Homo sapiens: one gene and its partners. The protein of the gene in region 1 purifies or fractionates together with the protein of each later gene. This does not show direct contact. Each region holds a gene or a part of one and is shown in the gene's direction. Other genes may lie near its edges.

The links.
Region 2: the proteins of SETD1B (region 1) and ZNF608 purify together in Homo sapiens (affinity purification with mass spectrometry, with the first as the bait; one large-scale study listed by BioGRID). This does not show direct contact.
Region 3: the proteins of SETD1B (region 1) and RBM26 purify together in Homo sapiens (affinity purification with mass spectrometry; one large-scale study listed by BioGRID and IntAct). This does not show direct contact.
Region 4: the proteins of SETD1B (region 1) and ZC3H3 purify together in Homo sapiens (affinity purification with mass spectrometry; one large-scale study listed by BioGRID and IntAct). This does not show direct contact.

What each region holds. Positions count from the first base shown.
Region 1 is NC_000012.12:121,827,641-121,830,582, forward strand, and holds part of SETD1B (histone-lysine N-methyltransferase SETD1B), read left to right. Parts: coding exon 1-10; intron 11-94; coding exon 95-214; intron 215-292; coding exon 293-430; intron 431-2,425; coding exon 2,426-2,599; 3' UTR 2,600-2,942. UniProt on the Homo sapiens protein: Histone methyltransferase that catalyzes methyl group transfer from S-adenosyl-L-methionine to the epsilon-amino group of 'Lys-4' of histone H3 (H3K4) via a non-processive mechanism.
Region 2 is NC_000005.10:124,642,088-124,645,955, reverse strand, and holds part of ZNF608 (zinc finger protein 608), read left to right. Parts: intron 1-1,294; coding exon 1,295-1,712; intron 1,713-2,272; coding exon 2,273-2,445; intron 2,446-3,868. UniProt on the Homo sapiens protein: Transcription factor, which represses ZNF609 transcription.
Region 3 is NC_000013.11:79,399,657-79,403,524, reverse strand, and holds part of RBM26 (RNA-binding protein 26), read left to right. Parts: exon of another isoform or gene 1-496; intron 497-3,868. UniProt on the Homo sapiens protein: May be involved in the turnover of nuclear polyadenylated (pA+) RNA.
Region 4 is NC_000008.11:143,531,202-143,535,069, reverse strand, and holds part of ZC3H3 (zinc finger CCCH domain-containing protein 3), read left to right. Parts: intron 1-3,868. UniProt on the Homo sapiens protein: Required for the export of polyadenylated mRNAs from the nucleus. Enhances ACVR1B-induced SMAD-dependent transcription. Binds to single-stranded DNA but not to double-stranded DNA in vitro. Involved in RNA cleavage.

The sequences.
Region 1 (2,942 bases):
CCAGCTCAAGGTGAGGCCGGGCTTCACCCAGATCGCCGGGGTGGCGGCAGGACCTGAGACCGGGGCTCACCTCTCCCCCTCTTCCCTCCCACAGTTCCGGAAGAAAAAGCTCAAGTTCTGCAAGAGCCACATTCACGACTGGGGCTTGTTCGCCATGGAGCCCATCGCGGCTGACGAGATGGTCATCGAGTACGTGGGCCAGAATATCCGTCAGGTAGGCACCGCCCGGCAGGATGGGCACCGGGGTGGGCATGGGGCCGGCCCAGCCAGACTGACCCCCTTTTGTGGCCAGGTGATCGCAGACATGCGGGAGAAGCGTTATGAGGACGAGGGCATCGGGAGCAGCTACATGTTCCGGGTGGACCATGACACCATCATCGACGCCACCAAGTGCGGCAACTTCGCGCGCTTCATCAACCACAGCTGCAACGTGAGTGCCCAGCGGGGGGTGGCCCCTGCCCCTGCTCCTGCCCCTGGCCCTGCTTCTGTGCCAGGAGGGCCTGGAAGCCCCGGCACGGGAATCAGCTCGGCCTCCTTCCCAAGCTCAGGTTGGCCAAGGGTTATAGGGAGAGGAGGACATGTGAGGTCTTTTACCAGGAGCTCTACTCCTCTGAGCCTCAGTTTCTCATCTGTCAAATGGGCATAGTGAGACTTCTGTGGCATTTAGAGGACTCAAAGAAGTGGTTGGTTCAGTTCATTGGTAATTTCGGAGTTATTTCTCTGCGTTAGCCTTTTCTCCGTGCCTTCATTGGTCAGGCTCAGTCCTGCTCGGGCCGAGCTGTCCACTAGAACTTTCTGCAAGGGGGAGGTGCACTGCGTGCATCTGTGCTGTGGGTTAGCCACATGTGTGGTGGTGAGCACTGGAAATGTGCCCAGTGCATCTGGGGACCTGAGTTTTAAATTTTATTTCATTTTGATGAATTTAAACTTAATTAGCTTGTGACGACTGTATTGGGTGGTGCAGGCCTAGAGGGGAGGGACACTGATAACAGGGATTTGAGTGCTGAAGGAAGAGCACAGGAAGCTCTGAGCAGGAGGCAGGCATGTTCCGGGGTGGATGCCCCTGACTTTGGGTTCAAGTCTTGGCATTGCAGCTTAGTGAGTTACTTAATGTCTCTTATGCCTGAGTTTCCTTGTCTGTAAAACAGAGACAATAACAGTCTCTCCTTTTAGGTTGTTGGGAGGGCCACATAGGTGGGTCACTGCACGTGGGCCATTTGAGTGCTGGCCAGGCCAGTCCTCAGCGCCTGCTGGCTCTCTTCGTTGTGACTTGATCCTTGCCTGGGTGGTAGGGACTTTCCTGTGAATATCCGGGGAGATCTGAGGGGTGAGAGGGAATTGCCCAGGGGAAGCGGTGCTGGGGCAAGGGGAACTGCGTGTTCAAAGGCCCTGGGGCAGTTGGGAGAACACCTGTTTGAGAGATAGCAAGGGAGGCAGTGGGCATGGGGTGGGGTAAGAGGATGGGGTGGGCAGGGCTGAGGGTGGCCAAGCTGAGGAACTAAGTTTCTCTGAGAGCCAAGGTCGCTGGAAGGTTGGAGCCATCGGGCAACAGGTTCTGCTATCCCTTTGGAAACGTTTCCCTGGCTGCTGGGGCAGGAGTGGATTTTTTCAGGGGTGAGAGTGGCCAAGGGGGCTGTAGCAGGCGGGTGAGCAGTGATGGGGGCCTGAGCGTGGCTGGTGGCCCCAGAAGTGGAGAGCAGTAGACACAACCAAGAGGCCCTTCCGGGACTGAACTCACCGGCCCTGGTTGGGGCCAGATCTGGACTGAAGGAGGCAGGGAGGCAGATGCTCTGGGGCCTGGGTGTGTGGTGCAGCGGCTGCCCAGAGCAGGAGCAGATCATGCTTTAGGTGTGAGCTAAGTCAAAGACAGTACCCAGGGCTGCCACTGGCAGACAGCAGGTAGTTGCATTTATGGGCTTGGAGGCCTTTACCTTTTCTGTAAAGGGCCAGATAATAAATGTTTTTGGCTTGGTGGCTCAGATGATCTCTATGGCAACTACTGAACTTGGCTATTGTAACAAAAGCAGCCACAAATTATATGCAAATGAATGGGAGAATGGATATGGCTATGTGCCAGTAAAACTTTATTTACAAAAACAGGCTGCTAGGGGCTATAGTTTGCTGACCCTTTTTTTAGAGCTCAGAAGTGAGACCTGAGCTAAAAATAGACATACATTTGGGAGGCACTTGTACTACGAATGGAAATGAAAGGCCTGGGAAATAATTTTTATCATCATTATTTAATATCAGAGGCAAGGGGTCACCCCTGGGGGTCGGGGGAGCCAAGGTCCAGAGCAGAGCAGTGGGCTGGGGGTCACGTGGCATGTCAGGCCTTAAGCACAGGCCTGGTTGGGTTTGGGGGGTCTGCAGTGGTGGGGGACCCTGGGGGACCAGGGGCTCATTCTCCCCCCCACCTTGCCTGCAGCCCAACTGCTATGCCAAGGTGATCACGGTGGAGTCACAGAAGAAGATAGTCATCTACTCGAAGCAGCACATTAACGTCAATGAGGAGATTACCTATGACTATAAGTTCCCCATCGAGGACGTCAAGATCCCCTGCCTCTGTGGCTCCGAGAACTGCCGGGGGACCCTCAACTAGGCCCCGGCACCAGACTCAAAGGATGTCAGCCGTAGCCCTGGGACTCCCGAGCGTGGAGCCCCTGGCCCCGGGGCCCGGCCCCCCGCGCCCGCCCCCATTTCAGGTGCTGTCCTCTACCCAGCGGCCATTCAGGGCCTGGCGCCCCACACTACCCCCTGGAGCCCCTGGCTCCGGCCCCTCCGCGGGAAAGGGCTTCTCTGTCGTTCAGCCCACGTCTCTCTCATTTTAACAAACGCCCCTTTCAGGATTTCTGTTTAACTCCAGCATCAGCTTCTCTCTCTCCGTCTCTCCTCCCCTCTCTCTCTTCTCTGTCTCTTCTCTCTCCCACCATCACCCTCGGCCT
Region 2 (3,868 bases), on another chromosome or scaffold:
AGCATCTTCTTTGAAGATAATAAAAACTGGGTCCCTGAATTCACATTTCCCATTAATCTTTTTAATAGAATTTGGGGCCCAAATTTCTTTCACATGGGGTCAGAGATGCCTAGATTTCAGTCTTACTCCCTATATTAAGTACCCCAAAACTCAGAGCTCAGTGCTGAATGTTTGTGAGGAGGGTGAGGAGGTTTGGGTGGCAGGCCTCAACAGCTGTCCCAGAGCCCCATGGGTCAGTCAGCTTGAGAACACCTGAAAATTGGTCACCACGAAACCACAAATGTACTAGCACCTTCTGTCATGGTTCAGACATCCTGACCCACTGCAACCCCGTGAGCATTAATCCTGGTTATTTCCCAGCACTGCACATCCCCACTCCCACCCTCACCCCCATGCTTAGATAATCCCTGGTGCATTAGAGCAAGAACCACCAGCCCCCACCACCGCCACCCACACACACACATTTACTTAGGCACAACTTTGCATGTTCTCTGAGAACCTGAATCCCCAGTGGGTTTATATCATGAATGGGATGGGGATCACAAAGGCCATTTAGGATTCTCAGTTTCCCCACTTACAGAGGCATAAATCAGGCTGTCAATTCACAGGGCTGCAGAAGATTTATATAATTTTGGGGGTTTATAGATAGATGGCTTTGTTTTCCAATAGAGAAGCCATAACGTGTGCTATTAATTTGAAATTTTGTTTTGATTAAGATGTTAACACGTAATGAGAAGTGAGCCAATATATTAAGCCTCAGCTGCAGTAGATGAGGAAAATGTATTAGGAAACCAAGAGTTTTTCCTCCTAAGTGATGTTAATAGCTATAGCAATTACTTAAATTTACTATTATTAGCTTGAGTTGGAGTTTTTAACATTCTTTTCACCTGTGTGAGATATTAAAAGGCAAACGAAGACAGAATTAAATATGTCTGAGGATGTTATTTAGTGTTGAGAAATGACATTAAGGGCCCAGCTCTGAATTTCAGCAGACCTGAGTTTGAAGCCCAGCTCCACGACTGGGCAGCAGCATGACCTTGATGTTGCCTGAACTTTAAACACTTTGGTTTTATCTTCTGTACAGGGGATCAGTAATAATGCCTACCTGGGACATTATTACTTTGTAAGAGAAGGAGGTAAAGCAATTAGCACAGTGTCTAGCACAGAAATAAATGTCAACTTAGCATTAAAATTAAGAGTGCTAGTGCTGTCATGATTATTAACAAGTTTTCTTTAAAATTGAAATTTTAAAACAAATCTGTTGGGTTTTTTTTCTTTAAAACAAAAAAATCAGGACCCAGATTCAAGAACATGGCATCATTATGTATACCAGCCCAAATATCTGGATCAGCAAAAGTCAGAAGAACTTGATAGAGAGAAGAAATTAAAAGAGGATAGTCCGAGGAAAACTCCTAATAAAGAGAGTGGTGTGCCCAGCCTTCCTGTATCGTTAACAAGCATTAAAGAGGAGCCCAAAGAGGCCAAGCATCCTGATTCTCAATCAATGGAGGAGAGCAAGCTGAAAAATGATGATCGAAAGACTCCTGTGAACTGGAAGGACTCTCGGGGAACAAGAGTGGCTGTCTCCTCACCCATGAGTCAGCATCAGTCATACATACAGTACTTGCATGCTTATCCTTACCCACAGATGTACGACCCCAGCCATCCTGCATACCGGGCTGTTTCTCCCGTCCTAATGCACAGTTATCCTGGTACGTGTTGTCGGTTCTGACTATATTGGAGGAAAGAGGCGATGTTCAAATATTAGCTGTTAAAAACTCAAGATAAATTAGAAGCTTCAAGAGTGACATTTGTTTTCCTTGTTTTTATGCTGTTTAAAGTCCCAAAGATAAAACTGATTTAATATAAGTTTTTTTAATGAAATGTCAAGAATCCTCAGCCATAGTTTCCATAGTCTCTGATGGTCTGCTATAGCTGTTAGGCTGACAGATACTTTATTGCCTATAAAAATATTCTAAGCACTTACTGTCATAATCATTATAGTTACTATTCCTTTCACTTAAGCGGACACGTAAATGTATGAAATGGCTATAAGCTCAATTCTGTTTATAACCTCCCTTCATCAGGATGAATTAACTGGGAGAAGAAAATTGGAGAAGCTAGACACAGTTTAATGATGATGTAGCCCATTCTTAATGTAACCCCCTATTTTAAGATCTCTTTGACTCTTATCCCAAATTCATGTAACCCAAATGATTTTTTTTAAAGATATAGCCTGTAACTTGATGTGGCATTTGTTGTTTATCTGCAGGGGCATATCTCTCTCCAGGATTTCATTATCCTGTTTATGGGAAGATGTCAGGGAGAGAAGAGACAGAGAAAGTCAATACCAGCCCTAGCGTCAACACGAAAACAACCACTGAATCTAAAGCACTGGATTTGCTCCAGCAGCATGCTAACCAATACCGCAGCAAGTCTCCTGCTGTAAGCCTCCTTTTGTTGTTATTTAAAAGTACTGTGATTTGGGGAGAAAGGGGAACAAGCTAGAGAACAGTCTTGAAATATAAATGGTTTCGGAACCCAGCTGTGATTTCAGGATGCTGTTTTATCCTAATACGTAAAGAATGGAGCGTTCAAAAGTAAGACGCTTTCACACATGAGAGAAAATTGTTAAAGCACGTATGGCAGTAGCAAGCTTTTCTGTTGCAAAATCTAGTATACCTTGCTTACCCAGGAGGATGGTTGTTAGGTGGAAATTTAAATTCATAGGAACCAACTTTTGGTGCAAAATATGTTTGATAAGACATTGAGGAATTAGGTAACAGAGGAGTATATTTTATATAATTTTGGTAAGTAAGTAGTTCAGAGGCTACAAACTGTTGACTTTTTGGGCAAATCAAGCTTTTCAAAAAATGTTTTCTTGCAGGATACCTTTTAAAAATCAGACATTTTACATGCAAGTTCAGATCACCTCTTTCTCTTAAGACAATAGAAAATCTGGGCCGGGAGTGAGCCACTGCCTGTAATCCCAGCACTTTGGGAGGCCGAGGCGGGCAGATCACCTGAGGTCAGGAATTCGAGACCAGCCTGGCCAATATGGTGAAACTCCGTCTCTACTAAAAATACAAAAAGTAGCCTAGTGGTAGTGGGCACCTGTAATCCAAGTTACTCAGAAGGCTGAGGCAGGAGATTTGCTTGAGCCCGAGAGGCAGAGGTTGCAGTGAGCAGAGATTGTGCCACTGCACTCTAGCGTGGGCGACAGAGCAAGGCTCTGTCTCAAAAAAAAAAAAAAAAAAAAAAAAGACAATAGAAAATCTGGTTCAAAATGACATGGCAGTAACTGATGGGAACTAGTAGCCCCATCTAGGCAGATGTGCTGCTCCCCATCAATGTGCATGGATATAAATAGAAGCTCCCTAATCTGCATCACTTATCTTTGTTGTTAACTTGACTTCTGGAGAGATTTGAGGTTTCTGCTACTTGTATTGACCCTTCATATTCACATCATCAGTGTTCATGGTTGGGGGTTCATCACGAGCAAAGCTGAGTGCCCGTGACATGTAATAAGGCACAAATTTGAGCCTTGTACAGTGTGAGGCTCATTTGCAAGAGTAAGTCATGTGGCTTAGGAGTGAGAGCTGTGTCTGCTGTTTTCTGGCCTTGACTCTTTGTCATGTCCCTTTAACTCTGCTGAAGTAATACAATGTCTGTGAAAGATGGCTCTTCCCCAAAAAAGGTGACTGCTCTAGTCCTAGAGACTGTTGTGAAGAGAGACTAAACAAAAATAGGATGGTGCTTGGCTAGGAAAGAGTTTAAAGTAAATTAAAATAATAGTATCTGCAATGTGTGTGAGTCTACCAGAAACTCTATAGAGAAACCAGAAAAGGGGATTTCTGAATCTTTTTCT
Region 3 (3,868 bases), on another chromosome or scaffold:
TTGAAATAGCTTTCCTTTAAGCGTTCAGTTTCATATTAGATTTACTGCCGTATCCCTCCATCTTACCTAAATGAGAAGACTGTAGCTACTTAGAGTGTATGCTTGTAATTTTTCTTTAGTCTTAATGAAACATATTCCATGTATCATAAAGCCTACTCTCGATGGCTGTAGCACTGCAGTCATTATGTTGTAATAAATAAGGCTCTGCTAGTAGAGCCTAGACACTGGGAATTGTAATTGGTCCTTTTCTAATGTGTGTAGCTGTGGTAAAATTGAGCCCTTATTCAAGTTCTTGTCCTTTTAATTGCATTTCAGGTGGATTCTTTTGTATGATGACTTATAAAAGCTGATCCCAATTATGGATCAGTGGTTTCTAACGTTGGTTTTGTGAAATGTTATGATCTGTTATCTAAAAGGAATTTTTTTTTTTTTTTGCTTTAACATTGTAATTACCAAACGACCTCTGTTTGAGAGAGGAACATACAGAGGACCAAGGGTAAGCTGTAACTTGAAACTTACATAAAACTTTTTAGTTACCTGTGGTGGTTAAATACTTCATGGTTTTGGACTTACTCCACATTTTGAATGTGTTAATTCAGCAAACATTTATTTTAAGAGTACTTAACCTACTCTGTGCTAAGCAGTGTGCAAGATATAGTAGGTAACAAGACATGAAATGACTCACTTCATTTTATTTACCATTTAGCAGGAAAGATAGGTGTTGAAGTCTGGGAACATCAGGAAACACTTCCCTGGTGTAATGTTTATCTCAGCTTGGAAGGATGAAGAATACTTTGCTGGGGCAAAAGGATGGGATTGGAGACCTGTGAAAGCGTTATAGGTTTGGTGAACAGATTGTATGGAGGTCCTAAAAATGGACAAAAAAGATATGTTGGAGGAATTGAAAGAAATAGAAAAAAGCAAAGGAGAAGAATGGCAGTGGAAAGCTCCAGAGATAGGAGCCAGATCACACAGGACTTTGTTGAGTCATGTTTAAGACTTTGGATGTTATTGAAGGATAGTGGGAAGCCAGTGAAGGGTTTTAGGGCAAGAGGGTTTTCAGATGGATGTTTAAAAAAAAAAAAAAAAGCCTGGCTGTGTTTTCAGCGTGAAATAGAAGTCTGCATATCTGTATTTACTGTTTCATAACTTCTGTACATGTATCAGGGTTCTGAGTTTCATAAATTATTGAAAATAATTTTCAATGTCTTTTTCATAAATTGAGAATTTTGAACTTTATTAAAATTGTCATCTTGAAATGCTTAAGATTGATGTTTTGTTATCTCAAAGATTTGCTTAGTCATACTTGCCAATAATATGAAACTAAATGTTAGTCTTTTTTCTAACATTTCGTTTTGATGATGAGAAGTCCTGAAAAAAAAATTAAGCTCCTTTGTTGTAGTAAACTTTTAAACAAACAAAAAAAACAGAAAACACTTTCTACTGTATTTAAAACTTTTAGGTGGACTTACACATCAAAGTCATGTTTTTTTTTTTTTCCTGAAGAGACACCTAAACATCTAATGAAACTTTAATTTTTTAGAAAATAAAATTGAGGGGCAGGTGGATGTAATGACGTACTGAGGTTTTGTGAGTTGAGTAGTAAAGAACAAAATGCCTAGTGTTGTGCTTCTGCCACTGTGTAGTGCTGTGGAGGAAGTGTGTGGTGGAAGGAAGATCTCTGTGTCCAGATCAGTATTCAAATCTCACTTCTGCCATTTATTAGCTGTCTAGGCAAAGAAACCTCCTCTTTCCTTATTGGTATAATAGGAAGAATTACAGTATTTCCATCTATAGTTGAAAGGGTTGAATGGGACACATGTTTGTGAGCCTTGCCCTTCCCCTCCTTTCTTAGATATTGGTTGATTAAACACAGATAGGCTACATTACTACTGTTGCTACTGTTAGAATTATCACCAACACTCCTGCTGTGACTACCACCTAAACTGTATGCATTGTTGTTAAACATTTTGTATTATTGTACTTACAAGTTTTATGAGGTAAGCATTGTTATCTCTCCATTTTGCAGGTGATGATACTGAGGCACTGAAGCATGAAGTTATTTGCCCACAGTGATTTAAACTAAGGCTTTTTGACTCTAGAGCTGTGTGCATATTCTTAATTTACTACTACAGAATGCAGCATCCTAGTGTTTTCTGTTACTGCATATACTTTTTTACTATGACATTTTGATAGTATTGGCTACTATTGTAAAAGAACAAAGTTCTAAAGCATCGTGATTATCAGTGCTTTAGAGTTTAAGAAATAAACATCTTTGTGGTTTTTGTAGTATTTTTCCCCTTCACCTGTACTTGTTACTACACCTTTCTCACCACATTAAAATTTATTTTTGTTCGTGTCTGATAGGAAGAGTTATTCTTTTGGGTTGGCTAAATGATCTTTTTACTCCTGAACTTTTGAGTATTTTTGATTCCTTTGACCTTTCCTTTTCAGTTGGCTTCTTTTGGCATAGTAAGTCCATTTCCCATTCTTTAGGAAAAACTCAGCAATAATAGCAAAAAACAAAACAAAAGATAAAACGCTTCTAGTCACTTTCTTGCTAGCTTTCTGTTCCTGTCGCTGGTAAATCTTGAAGTAGTAGTCAGACTTTTAATTTTTTGTTAATTTGCCCTCAGCCATTTACTTCTTAATGTCTTGGAATAGAATTTCTTCGTTGTAATATAATTACAACCAAAATTACTTACCTCAGTGTTACCAATCAATTTATATTTATTGCCTGAAGTTTTATATTTTTTGCCCTATGCGTGTATAACATCAGTGTTGATGCCACCTTTTTAACTTACTTGCCTTGAATCCCTAATGTGTTGGTTCCTTTTCTTAAGTCAGTCTTACCCTCTTTTGTTCCTTTTCTTCAGATTCTAATTGTATTTTTCAGTGTTGTTACATTGACATTTTTTTCTTCATCCATTTTTTACTTCTGACATTTCATTAATTACTGCTAAGATTTGAATGTTTGTCTTCTCCAGAATTCATGTTGAAATTTAATTTCGTTAAGTATTAAGAGGTGATTAGGTCACGAGGGCTCTGCCTTTGTTGATTGGATTAATGCCTTTATAAAAGGTTAGGTTTTGCCTCTGCCCCTCTGACTTCTGCTATGGGAGACCTCTGACTTCTGCCATGGGAGGAACTCCGGAGGATGCAGTGTTCAAGGTCTATCTTGGAATCAGAATTGCCAAACCTGCCAGTACCTTGATATGAGACTTCCCAGCCTCCAGAACTGTGAGCCAATAAATTTCTTTATAAATTACCCATCTTGTGGTATTCTGTTATAGCAGCACAAACGGACTAAGACCTTTCCCATGAATGGTTTTCTTTGTAATACATGCCAGTGGTTCTTAAAAACTTTTTTTGGAGTGTATATTGTAGATCCTTTAAAGTCTGATTAAAGACTGTCTCCCTAGGATTTACAAATACATACACATTTGCATTGAATTTCAGAGCTTTTCACTCTGAGCTTGTTAATGGATTCCAAACTAGAACCTCTACTCTGCATTTATTTTCACATAAGTATGTTTAGACTTAACCACTCTTCACAGTCTTAAGCTTTTATCTCTAATTGCTGGCTGTATATCTGCTTGGATCGCTCATCTAAACTTCAAACTAATTTCTGAAAAGAAGTGTTTTCTGGATTCACTTATTTTAATTTCATTTCTCCAAATTATGCTGGCTTGAAATTTTTTGGCTTCTCCTTCCTCCCATTCACTTAGTCATGAGGTTCTCTCTTAATAATCCTTACTGACATTGCTTAGTAGGGGGCTCACACTCCGTATCTAAATGATTGCAGTTTGCTTCCTAACAAATCTGTTTTTATCTCTAGGCCTTTCTCCCTTCCAGTTCTTCTGACATG
Region 4 (3,868 bases), on another chromosome or scaffold:
CTGTCTCAAAAAAAAAAGAAACCCAGCCAAGCGTACCGTCATCTAGGGAGGCTTCAGACGGCTCTGGAAGGAGCTGGGCCTGGGCAGACCCAAGAGCCGTGTGGGGGCTGCCGCGGGAGGGCAGGGCGTTGGGTCCCAGGTGGAGGGCTGAATGGGGCGATGCAGCCGGGTGTTGCAGCACAGTGGGGTGGGAGGAAGTGGGGCTGGGGGCGCTGGTCGGCTGTACCCCGTTAGCCGACACCTGCTGCACGCCAGGACATGTGGATTTCATCCTGGTGACAGGGAGCAAGCAGAGACCCATGCGGTCCCTGGTGGCCACAGTGAGGTGGCCGGATGGTGGTTAGGTCGTGGGCTTATCTGGGAGTGGATGGTAGGGGTGGCTTGGACAGTTGGCGGTATCCCCTGGTCACTTGGGGAGGAGGGGTTGGGGAGGTGTCCAGCTCTGGGAGGCCAGCAGGGTCTGCTGAGCCCTAGGAGGCCAAGGCTTGCAGATGGCGTGGTGGTTGGGGTGAGAGGCTCCCCACTGGGTGCAGGTTCAGCCCTGCTCACCTGGCCTGCTCCCTCTTCAGGCCTCTAGTAGAGTGGGGCATAGGCAGGGGATGGGGGAGGTTGCTTCCTGCTGGTGGGGCCTTGCTCGGCGCCCCCCGGACTCCTGCCAGGAAGAGTGGGTTTGGGAGGCCACCAGCTTCACCGGCTGACCATTTCGGAGTGCACAGCTGAGGGGCTGCTGCGGTCCTGCCTCACTAGAGGGAAGGGCGTAATTGATCTCGTCGTTTTTTTTTTTTTTTTTAATGTTTTTAGAAACAGGGCCCTGCTTCCCTCCCAGGCCAGAGTACAGTGGTGCAGTCACAGCTCATTGCAGCCTCAACCTCCTGGGCTCAAGTGACCCTGCTGAATAGCTGGGACTACAGGTGCATGTCACTGTGCCTGGCTAATTTTTAATTTTTTTGTAGGGACAGGGTCTTGCTTTGTTGCCTAGGCTGGTCTTGAACTTCTGGGCTCAAGTGATCCTCCTGCCTTAGTCTCTTAAAGTGCTGGGATTACAGGTGTGAGCCACTGTGCCCAGCCAAACTCATAGTTAAAGACCAACGTGAGGCTGGGCGTGGTGGCTCATGCCTGTAATCCCAGCACACTGGGAGGCCGAGGCGGGTGGATCACCTGAGGTCAGGAGTTCAAGACCAGCCTTGGCAACATGGCAAAACCCCGTCTCTACTAAAAATACAAAAATTAGCTGGGTGTGGTGGCGAGCGTCTGTAATCCCATCTACTCGGGAGGCTGAGGCAGGAGAATCACTTGAACCCAGGAGGCAGAGGTTAGATCGTGCCATTGTACTCCAGCCTGGGCGACAGAGTGACATTTTGTCTCAAAAAAAAAAAAAAAAAAAGACCAGCGTGGCGGCTGCATGGAGTGAGAGGAGAGGGTCCTGTCTGAGGAAGGGGTGGGGAAGGCGTCCCACTCACTTGCCCACCACTGGCCCAACTGGCAAGCGTGGTTGAGTCACTGTGCCTGGCAGCCTGCCGGCTCCTGGGGATACTGCAGTGAAGGTGAAGAGATGATGAGGCTGGAGCCGCCTTCCAGTGGTGGAGACAGGCAGCCACTGGAGTGCTTGTACATCAGCCAGGAAGGTGCTCCTGGGTGGAAAATGCCTTCTGAGGAACAGGCAGGGGGAGAGCACAGGGCCAGCTGCAGAGAGGTGGTTGGCGAGTGGGAGGGCTTCTCTGAGGAGGTGACCTGAGCAGAGAGGAGCGAATAGGGCTCAGCTCTGAGGCCGAGGTGGAGGTGGGAACGAGCTTACTGTGTTCTGGAGCACAAGGAGGCTGTGGGGCCAGTTCACCATCTGGGAGTGTGGCTTGGAGGGGATGCAGCCAACGGGGCAGAGGGACCAGGTCCTGGGAAAGGGTCTTGTAGGCCACAGGAGGGAACGGGGGGTTGGTTCTGGTTACGTTGGGAAGCCAGGGAGGGACAGGGGAGGACCCTGGGAGGGGCGTGTCCAGGGCCCCGGGGTGTCTGGCAGGCCCGAGTGGGCAGAGTCGGGAGGACCTGTGCGTGAGGCCACTGACGCCAGGCCAAGGAGCGGAGTCCGCAGGCTCTCAAGCAGGCAGGGAGCCCGTGGAGATGTGCGCGGAGGTGAGAGGCCGAGCCTGCGTCCTGGCCTGGTCACTCAGGCGGCTGACCCCAGAGACAGCCACCGTGAGACTCCAAGCTGGCCGCAGGGGAGGTGGGCGTGGCCAGGGCGTCTGCTGAGGAGATGGGAGGCTGGGGCCCAGGAAGCTGTTGAGTGGCTCCCCCAGGTGCCCTCCTGCAAGGCCCACCGTCTCCATGCCTGCCTGCCTGCCTAGGAACTGAGGCCTGCCTGTCCTCTGCCTTGGCCAGTGGGCTTCTGGGCAGGGCCCAGCTTTGTTTCGTTGAACGCTGCAGTGCTCTGGTGAGCCAGTGAGCCCTTCCCAGGCCCTCCTTCAGCCCTCCCGGGTGGCCAAGGCCTCCATCGGCTGGGGTGTTCGTTCCTGGATGCTGGGGTCGTGTGGGCTGTGGATGGGGCAGCCAGGTGGGACTGCTCCTTCATTTGGCTGTTGGGAGTTTTCTTTCCCCATTTTCTGCCCAGCAAAAGCTTAGTTCCAGCTCCACCTCTCCTCTTCAAGGAGACGGCAGTGTCCCAGTGTCCAGCTGGGGACGACTGCCCTGTGGACTTATGCACCAGGGACAGGGGCTTCTGAAAGCTGCCAGGCAGCCCTGCTGCCGCCTCCCTCCCCCGCCGCACTTCAGCCTTGCCGTGCGGCCCAGTGGCCAGCAGAGGGCATGCTTGCCCCTCCTATCGCCTCCGTCCACCCTTTTTTGGTAATCGCGTAATTTCCTTTTTATGTGAAAGAAAGCAGATACCAAGTAATTTGCAGCAATAACCTGCTAATGCTGGGCCAGTATCGAAACTCCCCTGTTCATTTCAAGTGGCAGATAAAACGCTAATACATAATTATCCTTGCAAATTGGATTATTTTAAATAACCAAAAGGCTACGGCCAGGAGAAAGCGATCCCATCTCCCCTGAGTTACTATTGCAGCGTAATTGCCGCGTTCAATCAATTTCCCTGGCATTAGAAATTCCGTCACAATCAACATTAAGCTTTATTCATTGTGATGGCTAAGAGCCGGGCCATTTCTCCTCTTTTTCTTAACTGGCAAAATTAATCAGGGAAAAGATTTTAAACATTTACCCGTGCGAAAGAGGTCAGCCCTGCCACTATATTGCTCAGCAGATAAGGGGGCTAATAAAAAGAAAATTGAATTACTAATGATCACCAAGAACAGAGTATATAAAACCTGGCCATCGCCAGTTCAGGAAAAGGGAGAATCAATTTTCTTGGGACAAGGTGCGTTCATTTTTTATTTTGGCGCATATTATCAGCAATTTAATTTGAGAGGCATAAACAGGAGGAAACAGTTAGGGAATAATGAGCCTGGAGGTGTAAAGTGCCACAGGATATATGCTGTACACAATTTATTTGGCACAACAGATAATCGCTTTAATTGAATTCAAAAGTGCATTGTTCAGCAGCACTGTGGCCGCTCACGCCTGGGGACTGAGACTGTTTGGAAGGTTTCAGCCTGACTCTTCGGTGCCTCTCCTCCCCTCCCTGCCTCTCCCGGCCCTCCGAAGTCCTCTGGGCCTGGAGTCAGACCTCGGCTGGGGGCGGGGCAGGGGATTCCTGGGGGTCTCTTCCTCTGCTGTCAGTGTGCCCCTTGCCTTCCGTTTCTTCCTTCCCTTTTCTCCTGGGGATGGGTCTGTTGGCAGCTGGGGGATGAGGATGTGAGACACTGGCCGGGTGCCGAGGCTCATGCCTGGAATCCCAACACTTTGGGAGGCTGAGGCGGGT